Homo sapiens: one gene and its partner. The protein of the gene in region 1 purifies or fractionates together with the protein of each later gene. This does not show direct contact. Each region holds a gene or a part of one and is shown on either strand. Other genes may lie near its edges. The genes, in order: SEPTIN12 and LMNB1.

What was found.
Region 2: the proteins of SEPTIN12 (region 1) and LMNB1 purify together in Homo sapiens (co-immunoprecipitation; one study listed by IntAct). This does not show direct contact.

The regions. Positions count from the first base shown.
Region 1 is NC_000016.10:4,778,316-4,782,136, reverse strand, and holds part of SEPTIN12 (septin-12), read left to right. Parts: intron 1-2,350; coding exon 2,351-2,447; intron 2,448-3,821. UniProt on the Homo sapiens protein: Filament-forming cytoskeletal GTPase. Involved in spermatogenesis. Involved in the morphogenesis of sperm heads and the elongation of sperm tails probably implicating the association with alpha- and beta-tubulins.
Region 2 is NC_000005.10:126,815,001-126,818,821, forward strand, and holds part of LMNB1 (lamin-B1), read left to right. Parts: intron 1-169; exon of another isoform or gene 170-247; intron 248-1,634; exon of another isoform or gene 1,635-3,821. UniProt on the Homo sapiens protein: Lamins are intermediate filament proteins that assemble into a filamentous meshwork, and which constitute the major components of the nuclear lamina, a fibrous layer on the nucleoplasmic side of the inner nuclear membrane.

The DNA of each region.
Region 1 (3,821 bases):
CTCTACTAAAAATACAAAATTAGCTGCGTGTGGTGGCACGCACCTGTAATCCCAGCTACTGGGGAGACTGAGGCAGGAGAATTGCTTGAACCTGGAAGGTGAAGGTTGCAGTGAGCAGAGATTGTGACACTGCACTCCAGCCTGGGCAAGGGAGTGAGACCCTGTCTCAAAAAAAAAAAAAAAAAAAAAAAAAGGCCGGGCACGGTGGCTCACACCTGTAATCCCAGCACTTTGGGCGGCTGAGGTGGGCAGATTACCTGAGGTCGGGAGTTCGAGACCAGCCTGACCGACATGGAGAAATCCCGTCTCTCCTAAAAATACAAAATTAGCCGGGTGTGGTGGTGCATGCCTGTAATCCCAGCTACTTAGGAGGCTGAGGCAGGAGAATCACTTGAACCCAGGAGATGGAGATTGCAGTGAGCTGAGATCACACCGTTGCACCCCAGCCTGGGCAAGGGAGTGAGACCCTGTCTCAAAAAAAAAAAAAAAAATGAAGCACTGTCACCCTGTCACCTGCCTGCTACAGCGTGGGGGAACCTTGTAAACATGTTTCTCAGACAAAAATCAGTCAGACACAAAAGGTCACGTATTATGGGATTCCATTTATATGAAATGTCCCAAATAGGCATAGGCAAATCTATAGAGACAGAAAGTAGATTGGTGGTAGTCAGGGGCTGTGGGGAAGGGAGAAATGGGGAGTGATTGCTAAAAGGTATGGGGTTTTTTTGGGGGGACGTGATGAAAACGTTGTGAAATTAGATTGCGATGATGGTTGCATAACCCTGGTCAAATACTAAAAACCCCCGTACCGTACAATGTTTTGTTTGTTTTGTTTTTAATGTTGTTTTTTTTATGAGATAGGGTCTTTTTTTTTTTTTTAGATGGAGTCTCCCTCTGTCACCCAAGCTGGAGTATAGTGGCGTGATCTCCGCTCACTGCAACCCCTGCCTCCTGGGTTCAAGCGATTCTCCTGCCTCAGCCTCCTGAGTAGCTGGGACTATAGGTGCACAATACCACGCCTGGCTAATTATTGTCTTTTTGGTAGAGATGGGGTTTCACTATTTCAGCCAGGGTGATCTCGATCTCCTGACCTTGTGATCCACCCATCTCAGCCTCCCAAAGTGCTGGGATTATAGGCGTGAGCCACCGTGCCCAGCAGAGACAGGGTCTTGTTCTGTGGCCCAGGCTGGGGTGCAGTGGCAGGATCTCCGTTCACAGCAACCTCCAACCTCCTGGGTTCAGGTGATTCTCCCACCTCAGCCTCCTGAGTAGCTGGGATTACAGGCATGCGCCACCACACCCAGCTAATTTTTTATTTTTCCTAGAGACAGGGTTTCACCATGTTGACCAGGCTGGTCTTGAAGTCCTGACCTCAGGTGATCTGCCTGCCTTCACCTCCCAAAATGCTAGGATTACAGGTGTGAGCCACCACGCCCAATATTATCAACATCCACATTACTCCCCATCACAGATGAATTCAGAAGTAAAAACCCATATATGTCACTTCGGAGTTTGCAAGTTTGAATTTCTGCTTCTGGCCATGAGCAAGTAAACAACTGGAGTTTACGGTAGGGTTCAACAACCTTTTCTGCAAAGGGCCAGGTAGTAAATGTTTTAGACTTTCTGGGCCGTAGGGTCTCTGTTGTGATGATTCAACTCTGATGTCATGGTTCAAGAGCAGCCATAGACAAAAATGACTCATAGGCTCAACTATGTGCCAATAAAACTTTATATATAGGAAGACAGGCAGGCTGGGTGTGGTAGCTCACTCCTATAATCCCACCACTTTGGAAGGCAGAGGCGGGAGGATCACTTGAGCCCAGGAGTTAGAGACCAGCCTGGGCAACACAGAGAACTCATCTCTACTAAAAATGTTTAAAAAGTAGCCAGGCATGGTGGTGCACACCTATGGTCCTCACTCCTCAGGGGACTGAGGCGGGGATATCACTTGAGCCCAGGAGGTCAAGGCTGCAGTGAGCTATGGGATTATAGGTGTGAGCTATATAATACGCTATATAATATAATGGGATTATAAGCTCAGCTAATTTTTTAGTTTTTGCAGAGATGGCCTTTCACCATGTTGCCCAGGCTGGTCTCAAACTCCTAGGGCTCAAGTGATCCTCCCACCTCGGCCTCCTAAAGTGCTGAAATTACAGGCAAGAGCTACCTCACTCAGCCAGAGGCACCAATTAGACTTTATGTCTTTGAACTTGGGAATTCTGTGCACTTTCTACCATGTTCCCTCCTCGAAAAGGATAGGACTCCCCTCTCCTGCCTGGGTGCCTTGACTTTTCTTCTCTTCTCCCCAGCGAAGTCAATCCTCCCATCTCTGTGTCTTCTCCTTTCCCAGGACCGAATCCCTTTTGCCGTGGTAGGGGCTGACCAAGAGCACCTGGTGAACGGGAGGTGTGTCCTGGGCCGGAAGACCAAGTGGGGCATCATTGAAGGTCAGTGCGGGGCCCCTGGGTAGGATGCAGGTGGGGTCAGTTTGGAAACCAGAGCAGCCTTGGGCAACCTTCGCACCCATCACAGGGCACAGAAAGGTGAAGCCCACTAGACAAAGAGCCCTGGGGAATGGTCCCTCTTTCCAGCTGGGAGGCTGTGGCAAGTTTCCGGACCCTCTGGGCCTCAGTTTCCTCACAGTAAAGTGGGCATCACAGTGCATCAACTTCCTAGGGTGTTGGAGCGGGGAGAACCACCATTTTGCACAATGCCCAATACCCAAGGCTGCCCTAGTGGCTGGCCGGAAATTACGATGGGCCTACTGTGTATCAGGCACCGCTATGTGCAGTTACTGCAGTGCACGGTAAAGGGAGGACTGACAGGGTCCCTGTCCCCATAGAGCTGACAGGACAAGGACAGGTCGGGGAGGCACAGTGAAGGCGATTGTGGCGGGAGGGAGAGGAGACTGCCTTAGGGAGCTAGGGAAAGTGACACAGGAGGGGCAGCGAGGATGTAGCCCCTGATGTATTATTATTATTTTTTATTTTTATTTTTTTGAGATGGAGTCTCGCAGTGTCACCCGAGCTGGAGTGCGGTGGCGTGATCTCGGCTCACTGCAACCTCCGCCTCCTGGGTTCAAGTGATTCTCCTGTCTCAGCCTCCCAAAGAGCTGGGATTACAGGCACCTGCCACCACGCCCAGCTAATTTTTTGTATGTTTATGAGAGACGGGGTTTCACTATGTTGCCAGGCTGGTCTCAAACTCCTGACCTCGTGATCTGCCCGCCTCGGCCTCCCAAAGTGCTGGGATTACAGGCGTGTGCCACCGCGCCCGGTCAGGTGATGTATTATTATAATTATTAGAAATATTCTATACTATATATATATATTTTTTTGAGACAGAGTCTTGCTTTGTCACTCAGGCTGGAGTGCAGTGGAGCGATCTTGGCTCACTGCAACTTCCGCCTCTCAGGTTCAAGCGATTCTCCTGCCTCAGCCTCCCAAATAGCTGGGACTACAGATTATACCACCACACCCGGCTAATTTTTGTATTTTTAGTAGAGACGGGGCTTCACTATGTCGTCCAGGCTGGTCTCAAACTCCTGACCTCAGGTGATCCACCCAACTCAGCCTCCCAAACTGCTGGGATTATAGGCGTGAGCCACCGCGCCCAGCCAGAAATATACTATACTATTGCCTATGATATAGCACCCATGCTATCCGCAGAGGGTGGTTCCAGGACCCCCAGGGATACCAAAATCGGCAGATGCTCAAGTCCTACAGTGGGCACCCATGGATACAGAGGCCGAGTGTACATATAATACAATAATGATTGGTGGATTCATTCATTCTACAGCTATTTGTAGGAGCCGCCTGTAC
Region 2 (3,821 bases), on another chromosome or scaffold:
AATTTCTCTGGGGTGAATCTTTCCTCTGTTCATTATTGGTAACAGACTTTATGGTAAACAGTATATTTTGAGGAATATTTTTATTAGTTGATAAATTTTAGCCTTAGAAAAATCATCAAAAATAAAAATGTTATCTTTTTGAATATTTTCCTATTGTTTGTCTTAATAGTGTTTGTTGCTGAGTCATATCAGTTTCATCATGCTGCCTATTAGGCCATAAGAATTTCCTTTTGGTTAAATAACTCAGGTTAGTGAAGTACTTCTTAAATTTTACTTAAAATTGACATGGCTTTAAAATACTGGTTTTACAAGATATATTTAAATAATATATAGATGGTAGCAGTGTTATGTTTTGGAATTAGAAATTTTACATTGCTTATAGCATCTCTAGATTTTTGACTTGGGACCAAATGAATTGGTTGGTTAGAGTCTGCTTGCCTTAGAGAAGAGTACAGTATGGTACTTAAAAACACCTCTAACTTTTGTTTTTCTAACACCCAGATTCTGGAGACTTTGGTTGCAGCTAGACCTTAATAAACCAGTACAATTACATTACATACTATAAAATATTTAAAAACCCCAAGATCATCAGAAGTCATAAAATTTAGGGTTAGTGGCAAGATCTGAGAGATCATCTAGATAGTTAGAGCTCTTCATTTTCCTTATGTGGAAACTGGTTTAGTGAGATTAGTTACAGCTTGCTTATAGCCTCATAGGTAGTTTCAATGGCAGAATTAGAAAGGAGAATCTAGGTCTAACTTCTCATACTGTGTTCCTTATATTTCACTACACAGGTGTAAGTGCAGCTACTGAAAATAGAATTTAAATATTTCTATTTAAAATACAGAATGATTCAGAGTAACTTTAAAATTTTTATACCTAGATTTTGATTTTTCCCTCTTAAAGAGCTCTACAACATCAAAGGCAGTCAAACAGAGACATCATTGGGTTTATAAATCTCGGCTCAGGTTATCTGTGAATCTTGGGTAGTTTATATCTCTCATCAACTCTCCTTTAGATTCTACCTTTTTGCCCATTCAAATATATCTTCTACCTCTGATATATGAAATAAAGGGAGGCATTTTGAACTTACATGACTTTTTTTTTTTCTTTTGGAGAAAAAGAAAATACAAGGAACATGGTAGCGGGGAAATGGATTTCTCCATTTATAGCATGATTTTTGCAAACGCAGTTAAATGCAAGTTCTCTGAGGTTCAGGGACTACCTTTGTAATATCCATCTTAAGAGGAGTGCCTGTCTAAATAGCATGTCAAGTCATATACTACTCTGGAATTTAATTAATTGATTGGTCAATTTTTTTTCTTTAAAAATATATTTTTGTGTGTGCGTGTGAACCAGGCACCCCCTCTGCCCCCAAATAGGTTTACAGTGACTCTTGATTATTTTTTAAATAACCTTGTTATTTTGGCATAATTTTAGATTTACAGAAAAGTTGGCAAAGTACTATAGACAGTTCTTGTTTTCCTCTCACCCATTTTCCCCTGTTGTTAGCATCTTATGTTACCATAGTATATTTGTCAAAACTAAGAAACTGACATTGGTATATTACTGTGAACTCGTCTCCAGACTATTTGGATTTCACCAGTTCTTCTGTTATCTTCTTTCTGTTCCAGGTGCCACATGCCTCCCCTGGTCTGTGACAGTTTCTTGGGCTTTCCTTGTTTTTTATGAGCTTGAGTCTTGAGTAAGATTGTCCAGGTATCCTGTAGACTGTCCCCCAATTTGGATTTGTCCGGTGCTTTTCACGTGATTAGACTGGGGTTTTGGGTTTTAAGTGCCCGTTTTGTCACATCGTATCAGGGATTGCACGTATGTGATAACCACATGACATCACTGGTGGTGTTTGGTTTAAGATAGTGTTTGTCAGGTTTCTCCACTGTCAACAGCGCTACTATTTTTCCGTTCCCATACACTGTTCATGGAAAACAGCTCACTAAGTCCAGCCTACCCTCAAGGGTGAAGGACAGGGCAGGACTTAAGCGCCACATTCTGGAGGGAAATCTACATTTATTAAATGGCATTCTTCTGTAACGATTTATCCATTCCCCGTTTGTTTGGTTTGTTTGTTTGTTTGTTTGTGTCCGTATGGACCATGGGCATTTACTTTATACTTTGGGTTGTAAGCTAATACTGCAGTATTTACTTTTTTGGCTTAAATTGTTTCATATTTGGCCACTGGGAGTTCTGTCAGCTTGGCCACTATGTCCCATTGTTTTTTGAGCACTTTGTTGCTTTCTGGTACTATAACATGCTCTAGGCTCATCTTGCATTTTCCCTGCCCCAGTCCTAGAATTATCCAGTCTCCAAGGAGCCCTGGTTCTTGTTATTGGAGAATGGTATATAGAAATTAAGATCTGGGCACTGAGTGTGCTCACTGGTACTGGGTATCACTGCTTCTTGGCCCTCTCACCGATAAAAGTGGGTAACATTTTATGTATGCTAACCCATGTGTATGCACATATTTATAACTTTTTCTGTCTAATCATTTGTGTTAAGATAAACATGAATTCATACAGATGTCTCTGACTTGAATCTAGTAGGACAGCATTCAATTTTGGCTTCCTTTCTGACATACCTGTATCTTTTCTCTCTCAGAGTGAGAAACCTGGTTTTTATCATCCATTTACTTATCTGTTCAGCCCCAGTATATGTTAAAGCAGTTTCAAAATTTTGAACCTGTACTGCTGTGAAAAGTAAATTTACCAGCAAGAGTACAGTTTTTATGTATTTGGTAGCTCCTTTTTATCTCTAGCCTTCTAGATTTAGTTTTTGCACATTAGATGCCCTTTCTCTCCTGCTCTGTTGCAGGTACTTGTGATTCTGAGGGCCTAAGCTATCCATCAGTCTTTTTGAGTTGTCACTTTCTGAGGCTACTGAGATGAATTCTGTCATGGAGAAACACAGAAGAATAATTACCCAGCGAGCCACAAGGTTTCTAAGATGAACTTTCTGGTGTAGGATGTGTGATTTTTAATTTTTTTATGCCAAATATACAGCTTCTATATTCACAGTAATACTTTACAAATCACCCTATATTGTGTGTCCTTTGTGTGCTAACTGAACATGAGATAGCCCAGCAATCCTAAAGGGACACTAGGTAGTGCCTTCCACATAGTAACCAGAGTCCCTTTGCCTTGGTTTCTGAATATTCCTCAGCAGTCTGCTAAAACGTACTTTTACCCACTCTTAGGTTTATTTTGTCAGTCAGTGTTTATATCTTTTTTTTTTTTTTTTTGAGACAGAGTCTCGCTCTGTTGCCCAGGTTGGAGTGCAATGGCGTGATCTTGGCTCACTGCAACCTCTGCCTCCGGGGTTCAAGCGATTGTCCTGCCTCAGCCTCCCAAGTAGCTGGGATTACAGGCGCCCACCACTACAACCTGCTAATTTTTTTTGTATTTTTAGTAGAGACGGGGTTTCGCCATGTTAGTCAGGCTGGTCTCAAACTCCTGACCTCAGGTGATCCACCTGCCCCGGCCTCCCAAAGTGTTGGGATTACAGGCGTAAGCCACCACACCCACCCAGTGTTCTTATCTTTTTAAGTTCTTTATTTAATTTATACTTTTGGAAGTAAAGGCTTTGTAAGGGAGCCAGACTTGACTTTTACCAAAACCACATCTTAACATTTTTTTGGCTAAGTACAGAAAAATTATATGTATATTTACAGAACTTACATTTGTGGAATATGTCTTTTATTCTTTTATCAGCCAAAACTATCCTGAGGTCTGTGTTTTGTATTTGAGGAATTTTGGGTTTTAATTTCTTAAAATCTCTTGAATTCTAGTGAGTTAGAGATTCCATAG